3 linked regions of the Homo sapiens genome follow. The protein of the gene in region 1 purifies or fractionates together with the protein of each later gene. This does not show direct contact. Each region holds a gene or a part of one and is shown on either strand. Other genes may lie near its edges. The genes, in order: FBXO45, ARHGEF2 and SPRYD3.

Region 1 (3,749 bases):
ATAGCATGCCTGTCTCTCATAATTCTTGGCAAACAACTGCATTATCAAACAAATGTCAGCAGGAGGGTGGGGTGGGGGGCGGTAGAGGCAATTGGGAAATAAGACCCTAGTGAATTACTGTTCTCTGTCCACTTTCCATTCTAAACATGGGGAATGTGGATTCTATTATTAAAGCCATGGAATTTATAGGTAAATTCCATCACCACCTCTGGCTATTAAGGCACCCCAATTTTTCTTTCTAACCAATGTGTAAAAAATGTCTTTAAATGTAAGCAATCACAGGTGGTTAATGTTTAACTTTTTATTAAGAAACTAAGGCAAAACAACAGAATTCCAAAAAATAAAGATACAGAATTCTAATTTAAATTCTAAACAAATATAAAAATCAGAGTTTACCAGTATTTTTGAGTAGAGGGGAGTGGCTAAATGCATTCACAGTAATTATTTCTTCCTTACCAGCCTCAAGTTTGCAACCCTTTCCTTCCTGCTTCACTGGGACTAGAACAGAATTTCTCATTCATCTTTTGCTACTATAATTTTTGCTTCTATAGTCTAAAACTTCAGAGGAGCTTTTGTCTTTCTCCGCAGTTCTTTCTCTGTTCCTTCAGCAAATATGTGAGCACCTGCCTATTGGGCTTACATGTTGTGGCACAAAGATGAGTCCGTTAGAGATCCTGTCCCAGTTTAGGGGCGATATGACACCAATAAATAATCAATAAATAATTTTAAACAAGGTATAAATAAATACAGCATGAGTCAACTATAGATATATAAAACTAGGGAAATTTCAAGGAGAGATTACATTCAGCTAGAGAAACTGAGGAATGTTTTTGAGGACAGCATTTGGGCTGGGTGTGGGCTGTTCCTAATAAAGGCTTCCAAGTGGTCCTGATTATCTACCACAGTCCCAATTGTGGAACTGTGGTGGTCTCAATTTCTGGAAAGTAATCTTTTCAATGCTAACCTTTAAAACTCCTTAAATTTCTGGCCTGGCACGGTGGCTCGCGCCTGTAACCCCAGCACTTTGGGAGGCGAGGTGGGTGGTGTTGGCCAGGAGTTCAAGACCAGCCTGGCCAACATGGCATAAACCCCCTCTACTAAAAATACAAAGATTAGGCCCGGGAACAGTGGCTCATGCCTGTAATCCCAGCACTTTGGGAGGCTGAGGTGGGTGGATCACAAGGTCAGGAGTTCGAGACCAGCCTGGCCAACATGGTGAAACCCCGTCTCTATTAAAAATACAAAAATTAGCCAGGCATGGTGGCAGGTGCCTGTAATCCCAGCTACTCGGGAGACTGAGGCAGGAGAATCACTTGAACCCGGGAGGCAAAGGTTGCAGTGAACTGAGATCACACCACCGCACTCCAGCCTGGGCAACAGAGCAAGACTCCGTCTAAAAGAAAAAAGAAAAAAATTAGCCAGGTGTGGTGGCACATGCTACTCGGGAGGCTGAGGCACGAGAATTGCTTGAACCTGGGTGGCAAAGGTTGCAGTGAGTCAAGATCGTGCACTCCAGCCTGCGTGACTCTGTCTCCAAAAAAGAAACACACACACCACTCCCTAAGTTTCTATCTCTTCAAATTACTCACTTCTTCAAAATAACAAAAAAAAATTAATATTAATATGACAATCTACATAGTTTGGGGATTTAAAAGTTAAAGCTGGGTATAGTGGCATACACCTGTAATCCCAGCTACTTGGGAGGCTGAGGCAGGAAGACTGCTTGAGCCCAGGAGTTCAAGACCTGCCTAGGCAGTAGAGTGAAACCCTGTCTCCAAAAACAAACAAAAGTTCATTATACAGTAGTAGTTTCTTTATGGTTTAGGGCTCTGCTATTTTTGAAACTCTTTCTCCAGTCAAATAATTCTAAAAGGCAGAAAATGCCTAATCACTGAACAATGATTTTAAATATTAACTGGGTAAATCTTACTTTCTTTTGGTGTCTTATTGAATCCATATCTACACTTTATGTGAATGAGGGAGATGAAATAAATGGCTTAACATTTAAGTCAAATAATGAGAAAATAATGGCAACTATGAAATGACATTAACCACAAATTCCTTGTATGAAAAGATTTAATGAATTATGAGCCATTGATCATTACAAACTTTAAGCCTTAATATTTCTTCTTTCCTATGTAAAACCAGGTAATTAAAACAGCCTGTCTCAGTATGACAGAAGACCATAGTAGGGATAATAGTAACGTCTGCTTCCACATCTGCATGCTTCGTTAACCAACCAAAGAAAGTGCTCCAGGTTTCCCAAGTCAACAAAGTATACTCAGTTACACTTTCCCTGATCATACTATGAATTGAAACAGAACACTCCTTTGACTTTTAATAGCACTTTTCATCCACGGCACAAGCACTTTCCCATTATTTTCTCCTTTACCCTCAATATCCTTGTGAGGTAGTGAAGGGAGGGAGCAAGGATTTTTTTTTTTCTATTTTGCAGATGAGAAAACTCAAGGTGAATTTTACAACAGTGGTTCTCAACCTTGGCAGCATATTGAAATGACCAGAAAGTTTTTAAAAATCCTTATGACCAGCTCATATTCCAGACCAACATCAGAATCTTGGCATACGGAACCCAAGCATCGATGTGTCTTCCAACATTCCAAAGTGACTACAAAGTGTATACAGCCAACACTGAGAACCACTGGTTTGAATGATTTACACTCAATCTTCAGGCGCAACTGTCTTCTACCGAAATGCTCTCCTCAGCACCAATGACAAAGATATTCCATCTCCTTGAGCACTGCAGCAGTTTAAGATTTTGTAGAGCTACTACTGGGTTTTAGTGACAAATTTACGTAAATGAAGGCCCTCATGACCCAGATGCTCATGCTGCTCACTTCAATTGCATATGATTTGCGAATGGGACATTCGGGAATTTAAATCTTTGAGATAAGAATGGCTTGTTGTTAAATATTGAGGCAATTATTTCATTCTAGGTCCAATACGCAATAACCATGTGTTTCGGTTTTCCACTCAGCACCTTCAAAACTGTTGCAAATGAATGTTTACTAACAAGACAAAAGAGACAATTATAAACCAAACTCTCAACAAAATTCGGAATGGCCACATCACAACCTGAAAAAGAAACAAGTACTTAAAGGACTTGATCACTTCCTAACAAGTCCATCTTCAACCTGAACCACTTCTCTTGTTTAATCAAATTTTAAACTTTGCCGAACTGAGTTGTTCTACACCAAGAAAAATCAATTTCTATACCACCTACATTCTCTAATACATTTAACATATAATTTCACTCAATACAAGGAGGTTTCTTCTTAACCTGGACATCGAAAAGAATCTTTAACAGATTTCATCTTTTCAAGCAATGTATCAAATACACAATAAATACTTGTAAACTTTTCAGGTGGCAACAATAAATCTTTGTTCTATGGCTGAAATCCCTTGCTTCACAGGAGTATTGACAATCTTAACTCCCAAGGAGCAATCCAAGAATCCCGGCCAGCTGCTGGGTGTCCCTAATCAGATTTAAAACAAAACATACATACAGCAAGAACTCAGAAGTACAAAGATTTCGCTCGCTTTTGTCAATTCTTATGTATCTAAAACCATACAATTTATACTTTCATACAGAAAGATGTCTGTTTCTTTTCTAACAAAAGAAAAACTCTCAGCTCATGTGGGTTGGATTATTAATTCAAAAGCATTTTAGTGATGAGAAACAAGATTTGTAAGTCAAAATAGGAGTTAATGTTAAACTCTTCTACAACGAA
Region 2 (3,649 bases), on another chromosome or scaffold:
AATCCCAGCACTTAGGGAGGCCGAGGCGGGCGGATCACGAGGTCAGGAGATTGAGACCATCCTGGCTAACACAGTGAAACCCTGTCTCTACTGAAAATACAAAAAATTCGCCGGGCGTGGTGGTGGGCGCCTATAGTCCCAGCTACTCAGGAGGCTGAGGCAGGAGAATGGCGTGAACCCAGGAGGCGGAGCTTGCAGTGAGCCCAGATTGCACCACTGCACTCTAGCCTGGGTGACACAGCAAGACTCCATCTCAAAAAAAAAAAAAAAAAAGAATCAACCTCCCTTTATGCAGCCCATACAACAGTGAGACTCAGTGGGAGAGAAAAATAGGATCTCTGTGGCAGAAAAGCCTGAATTCTGCAGTTAACTTTATGGACCATACAGGGCCTTCCCTATCAGTATTTTATAATTTCTTTGGTCCTTGCATGCCTAGAGAGCTACTAGTTTTACTGAGGAAGACAAAGAAGCTCTCAGACTGGAGGACAGGATCAGTTGATTCCCCCAGCTGGAATCCCAGCTACCAGGGATGGGAGTAAGCAAGAGCTTTGGGGAGCGCAGCCAGAGGAGGCCCAGAGGAGGGGACTGAGCCGGTGAAGGACAGGCAGGGAGGAGAAGAGACAGCAGGGCAGAGGGAGCAGATCAGGGGCCAGGGCACACTTTCCCAGGCTCTCTTTCCAGAATTTGTCTGCACTGGCAAAGTCTTTCTCACCTAAATCAAAGCAAGAGAATAGCAGGCCTTGGCTTTGGGGATGAGATGTGAGGGACAATAGGAAACTGTGATACCTGAGGCCAAAGCCTGCCTGAGCCTCTGTACCTGTGTCATGAAATCCCTGCTCCCTGGGTTTGGATATTGTCAGTCTTCACCAGCCTCTTTCCTTTATCCCTTTCTCTCCTTCCCATCTCTCCCACGCAGCAGCTAAGAATATAAACCATGGGGGATTAAAAATAGCAAGGCTGGAGAGTGTTATTTCTGAAGCATTTAGCAAAAGCCCTCCCCTTCTGTGTGCCCACAGTTTAGTAAAATCCCCAAGGGCAAAGGAGGAGTGTATGTTTTCTCTCTCTTTTTTTTTTTTTTTAGAAACAGGGTCTCGCTTTGCTGCTCAGGCTGGGGTGCAGTGGTGCAGTCATAGCTCACTGTAACTCAAACTCCTGGGCTCAAGTGATCCTTCTGCCTTAGACTCCTGAGTAACTGGGACTACAGACCTGCACCACCACACCCAGCACATTTTTAAATTTTTTGTAGAGATAAGATCTTGCTATGTTGCCTAGGCTAGTCTTGCTCAGACTCCTGGCCTCAAGTGATTCTCCTGCCTCAGCCTCCCAAAGTGCTGGGATTGTAAATGTGAGCCACTATGCCTCGCCCTCTGTTTTCTTGATTGTGACATCCAAGTTTTATGGAATTGATCTTTGTTTCCTCCCTCAGTCTTGGAGTGCTGACCCCATAGGATCTGAGAGCTTGGAGTGTGAAGCAGAGAAAGAAATTGAAGCAGGGGCCTGCTGGGGTTGAAGGAGATGGGTGGGTGAGGGATGGTCTTTCAGTCCTCTGCGAGAGGAAGGAAACTTTCTCCCTCCCTACCAAGCTCAAAATTAGAAGTGGGAATATGCCAGGACAGGGAGAATTTAGGTCAGATAGCCGTAAAGGTCTTCCTTAGTTAGATATTAGAAATGGAATTTAAAGGCTAAAAAATGTGGTCCAGGCTGGGCACGGTGGCTCATCCCTATAATCTCAGCACTTTGGGAGGCTGAATCAGGCAGGCAGATCGCCTGAGGTCCGGAATTCGAGACCAGCCTGGCCAAGATGGTGAAACCCCATCTCTACTAAAAATACAAAAATTAGCCAGGCATGGCAGCATTCACCTGTAGCCACAGCTACTTGGGAGGCTGAGGCATGAGAATCGCTTGAACTCAGGAGGCAGAGGTCACAGTGAGCAGAGATCACACCACTGCCCTCCAGCCAGGGCGACAGAGCGATACTTGGTCCCAAAAAATAAAAAATAGGCCAGGCGCAGTGGCTGATGCCTGTAATCCCAGCACTTCGGCAGGCCAAGGCAGGCAGATTACTTGAGGTCAGGAGTTAGAGACCAGCCTGGCCAACGTGGTGAAACCCCGTCTCTACAAAAATGCAAAAAATTAGCCAGGTGTTGTGGCGTGCTCCTTAATCCCAGCTGCTCAGGAGGCTGAGGCAGGAGAATCGCTTTTTCCTGGGAGACAGAAGTTGCAGTGAGCCAAGATGGCACCACTGCACTCCAGCCTAGGCGACAGAGTGAGACTCCGTCTCAAAAAAATAATAATAGAATCAAATTAAATTAAAAATAAATAAAAAATAAAAGTATGGTCCCTCTTGCTCTGGGGAACCTTATGAATCTCACAAAAATCTTGGACCCTGTCACCCAAAAAAATACACGAGTTATGTTAATATGTAAAACTATTTACACACCTTCAGAAGGTTTACAGAGCCACTGAAGCCTGACATCCCAGGGGGTCTGTAGGCCCTAGGTTAAGAAACCTGAATCAGTCAGGTAGAAAGGGTTTTCTGTAGACACTGAGTGATCCCTGTGGTTCCTGCTAGCCCACAACGCTGTTTTGTCTGATAGCACATGAATCTTTCTGCACCCTGCCCGCCCCCCACCCCCCACCCACACTGTTTTTAAGCTGTAAGAATGTGTGACCAGGCGCGGTGGCTCATATCTGTAATCCCAGCACTTTGGGAGGCCGAAACTGGTGGATAAACCTGAGGTCAGGAGTTTGAGACCAGCCTGACCAACATGGTGAAACCCCGTCTCTACTAAAAATACAAAATTAGCCGGGCATGGTGGCACACGCCTGTAGTAGTCCCAGCTCCTTGGGAGGCTGAGGTAGGAGAATCGCTTGAACCCGGGAGGCGGAGGTTGCAGTGAGCCAAGATTGCACCATTGCACTCCAGCCTGAACAACAAGATGAAAACTCTGTATCAAAAAAAAAAAAAAAAAATAGAATGGGTGAGGTGTGAGAGGTCTGAAAAAGTGCAAGCAGCCAGAGGGAAGAGAGGCCAGGAAGAGGGAAACTGGGAGCTCTAACCTGATGGGATAAGCCTGGTCCTTGGGAAAGAGGGAAGCAGCTGCTCAGACCGTCTAGTGCTGACTGTTCTCCCACCTTCATCCCCTTCCAGATGTGCTAGTGCTGCTGATGACAGATGTACTGGTGTTTCTCCAGGAAAAGGACCAGAAGTACATCTTTCCTACCCTGGTGAGACATTCATTCTTCACCTTTCTCAGCACAGACAAGTGTTTTAGTCTCTTCTTGCTTTCCTGCCCAAGCCCACGAGAGCTCTGGAGTCCCCCAGAGTCAAACAGCTATAATTGTTACTATTACCGTAATAATAAAAAATAAGAGCAGCTCACAGGTACTGTTACTGTGCACAGGCACTTTTACACCTGTGGGAAAAGATTATTTTCGTCCTCATTTTATAGATGATGAAAGTAAAGCTTCAAGTCAGTTAAATAATTTGTCAAGGGTTGCACACATTTCTAAGTCCCTTCTGGCTGGCACCAGTGCCTGGCTCTTAACTGGTATTGTAAGATGACTCTTCAGTCCTTTCAGTCCTCGTCCAGAAGGATTGAAGGCCTAAATATGCCAAGGGACAGGATTCCCAGGCTTAATCCTTCCT
Region 3 (3,649 bases), on another chromosome or scaffold:
ACGACTTTCTTCTACCCTCCCACCCCTGCAGCCCTGAAGGAAACATGTTGCCTAGGGACCTCCTCCACGTCTCCCTGGCAAGCTTTGGGACGCCGGCCTCTCACCTCTCACAGATTCCTGCCTGAACAGGAAAGGAATTATGCCCACCTGCACCAGCACAGAAGCCTGTGCGTGTCTCCAGCAGAGGCTGCTCCCGCATCCCCACTCCCAGCCTCAGACGGCCGCTGCTTAGCTCAGGTGCTTAGAGCGGGGTGCTACTAACCCCTTCTGAGAGTAGGACTAGAGGGGCTTGGTGCCTTTCTCAGCCCTGGATCTCAGCCCCGCCACCTCAAGTCCATCCTTCCCTCCTCTCCAAAGATAACTGGGGATGGATGAGGGGGAAAGCAGCATGCACGGGAGACCACCTAAGCCCATCCCCAAGGCCACACTGTTTGACTTCTGTTCATGGTGTATTCTCTGCTCAGCCTGGGTTCCTCCTCTGCCTCTCTCCCCGGGAAGCCAGGAGGGGTGTGGCTTGATCCACATTAACTAGTTTAGACTCCACCCAGGCAGAGCAGCCCCCAGCCCACCCTCTCCACCCAGCATTGCAGAACTGGGTGGGGGACCCCACAGCTGCCTTTGACCCATTCTATCCAACTGGCCTCGGTGTAGGAAACACAGTGTTCTCCATTTCCAGAGCCAAAAGACAGCCGATCCAGACCCTGATCCTTGGGAAATACCCGGCCAGCCCCTCCCTTTGCCTCAGCTCAGAAGAGGGTAGCTGCTGCATTTCTGTCTCTGGATAGGGTGGAGGTGCTTTCTCACGCTAAAAGCCAGGACGGACTACCCCAACATGGGTCTTTAAAACCCACTCTCTACCTGCCAACCACAGAGCACTTCGGACAGAATGCTGATGTCCTGGACGACTAGGTACTTGTACAGTGTATAGGTGAGGCTTGTACAGCGTGCCCTCTTCAGAGGGGACCGCCCAGCCCTCACAGTGAAAGCCATCATAAACCTCCTGATCCACTCTCCTGCTCCTGGACAAAGCTCCCCCGACCCCTCCTGAGCCTTCCCAGAGAACTCAGAGGGGTGGAAGTGGGGGGAATATTTGGCCTCCCTGACAGATTCTTTCTTGAGTACATTCCTCTGCCTCCTTGGTCTATAGCTGTTAGGAACCTAGAGGAGGAGTGAAGGTTAACCCTTAGAGTCTGAACTGTTAGGATCTTGATGCTGGTCCCTCAACCTGTACCTCAGAATCCAACAGACCTGGGTTCAAATCCTAACTCCTATTACTTAACAGCCGCTAACCTCAGGCAAATGACATTCACCTCCTTAAGCCTTGGTTTCTTCAACAGTAAACTGGGATAAGATTACCTGAATTTCCAAAAACAAGTGGGAAGACTTAATGAAGTGACCAATACACATTGCTGCCTCTCCCTAAATCAGTGTAAATGGGGTTACGTTGGAATTGCCGATCACAAAGAAGGAAATGATCTTTCATCTTAGCCCTTACTTCCAACTACAATGGTCCCTTAGGCCAACCAGGACGATGGCCACTCCCCAGACAACTCTACCCTATGTGTCTCCTCTCAAACAATGTCCAATCAACAGAAATGTTTCTCTGCATTTTTGGTGGGGGAAGATGGAGCCCTTTCTTTGGGTCTCCCCCTAATACACACATACCACCAAAGCCCCAAGAAGCCAAAGACATGACTCAGTGCCACAGAGTGGCGGCTGCAGACCAGAGTGTGGACAGTCTCGTGCACTCCACACCCTCCCTCTACCAGTAGCACCTTCCCAGCCTCTTCTCCCCTGCCGGTATCCGCCCTCCTCCCCTTGCCAGCAGAGACCCTAATCCCTCTTGACAGGAGCAAGGAAGGGCTCAGTGCCCTGAGGGCCCAGAAGCAACTGAAACAGGAACCAAGTACACACTCTCCTGGCCAGCTCAGGCTCCAGCACAGCCTCCCTCTGGGCTGGGTCTGGGGAGGACCCCTGGGAGGGCGGGGCCTCATTCACCACCCTGTGTGTACCAAAGCTGTTGCCCCTGTCACTAAGGAGTTGTCAGAGGAGCTGTGAACAGGGCACAAACACAGAATGAGTCTAATCCCCCAGCTGTTACCTACCGCCCCCAGCTCCCCTCCACCACATTACCTCACTTTGCGAGGCCTGGAGGCAGGGATGAGGTGAGAGGCAAGTGCCCCAGCAATTCCTCAACCCCTCAGAGCTCTGAGGAGGTAGACTCTTTAGGAGGGGGAAACAGGCCACAGGAGGCAGGGGAAGAATTCCACTCAAGAAAGAGCCAGGTCTGTCTATATCCAAAGACTCAAATCTAACAACTGTTGAGGCCCAGGGCAGTGGCTCATGCCTCTAATCCCAGCAATTTGGGAGGCCAAGGTGGGAGGATCCCTTGAGCCTGGGAGTTGGAGGCTGAAGTGAACCAGCACTCCAGTCTGGGTGACAGAGTGATAGCCTGTCTTAAAAAAAAAAAAAAAAAAAAAAGGAAAGTTGGCATGACTGGAAAAAGGCACATGTCCCTCAGGAAGCTCACATCCAAGTTGGCCCCAGAGGAACGGGTGCCCCAGGAGTAGTGCTCCCACCCTGCCACCTGGCCCAAGCTGGGGTGAGGGTCTGAGAGAAGGGCCCAATTCAACAGCTTATGTCTAAAAAAGAAAAACACTCTTAAATAAGTGGCTGAAGGTGTTGGGGGGAGGGTGGGGAGGAAGGAAGGCTATTTATAAATGTCTACAGGATTCTGCATCAATTAGAAAAGATTGCCTGGGAGGAGCTGAGAGCAGAGTGGGGACAGGTCCAGGCAGAGAAAGGATGCCAGGAAAAAACTCTTGAGGAGAGGTCAGAGATGAGAGCTGGAACATCGCCCTGGCGCAGCCCCAAGTTTAACTCTGTAGATGTTGTCAGAATGATGGTAGATTGAGGGGAAAAAGGAAAGACATGAGAGTCACGGAGTGGGCATCTGAGGCCTCTTAGCTCTCGGTCGCTGCAGCCTGGGACCCTGATGCCAGACGGGGGTGCAGAGTGTCAGAAGCAGCAGGAGGGCACACTTCCTGTCATTTTCCCTGAGTTCCACTCCACCAGGGGGAGGCCTGGCTCCTAATCCGCTCCCACCCCCCACTGCTTCTGTTTTGTTATCAAAGACTGAGTTGAAAACAGCCTGGGTTGGGGTGGAAAGGCCAGAGGGTGGAGAAAAAGGCCAGGCCAGGAGCAAGGGGGTAGGAGAGGGACAATTCGAAGTGGGAGGGCTGAGCAGCCCACTAGAGGTCAGGGCCAGATCCCGGACTTGGCGTCCATTCACTCCCAATGCAGCACAGTGTATTGAGGCAGACAGGAAGAATTTTCCTTTCTCAAGGTTCATGAATTTTCCAACAAAACTTAAAATCCGGGGAGGAAGAATTCCCCTTTCTCAAGCTCCACACGCTTCCCAACGAAGCTTAAAATCCATACTAAAGCAGGTATGAGGAAAAGATAAATGAAGCAAGTTTGGAGGTGTAAGGATGCTCACTGAATCTTTATCTGCCTCCATTCTAATCCTCTATCAAATGCAGGGATAAGACAATAGAAACTGACATTGACACTTCCTCAAAAAAGATGGCTAAGAACCTTCCACCACATGTGTGGACTTCTGACCACACCTGCCCCACAACACTTTGAA

What was found.
Region 2: the proteins of FBXO45 (region 1) and ARHGEF2 purify together in Homo sapiens (affinity purification with mass spectrometry; one large-scale study listed by BioGRID and IntAct). This does not show direct contact.
Region 3: the proteins of FBXO45 (region 1) and SPRYD3 purify together in Homo sapiens (affinity purification with mass spectrometry; one large-scale study listed by BioGRID and IntAct). This does not show direct contact.

Annotation. Positions count from the first base shown.
Region 1 is NC_000003.12:196,585,597-196,589,345, reverse strand, and holds the end of FBXO45 (F-box/SPRY domain-containing protein 1), read right to left. Parts: 3' UTR 287-3,749; downstream 1-286. UniProt on the Homo sapiens protein: Component of E3 ubiquitin ligase complex consisting of FBXO45, MYCBP2 and SKP1. Functions in substrate recognition but also plays an important role in assembly of the complex.
Region 2 is NC_000001.11:155,957,899-155,961,547, reverse strand, and holds part of ARHGEF2 (rho guanine nucleotide exchange factor 2), read left to right. Parts: intron 1-3,151; coding exon 3,152-3,228; intron 3,229-3,649. UniProt on the Homo sapiens protein: Activates Rho-GTPases by promoting the exchange of GDP for GTP.
Region 3 is NC_000012.12:53,069,265-53,072,913, forward strand, and holds part of SPRYD3 (SPRY domain-containing protein 3), read right to left. Parts: intron 1-3,649.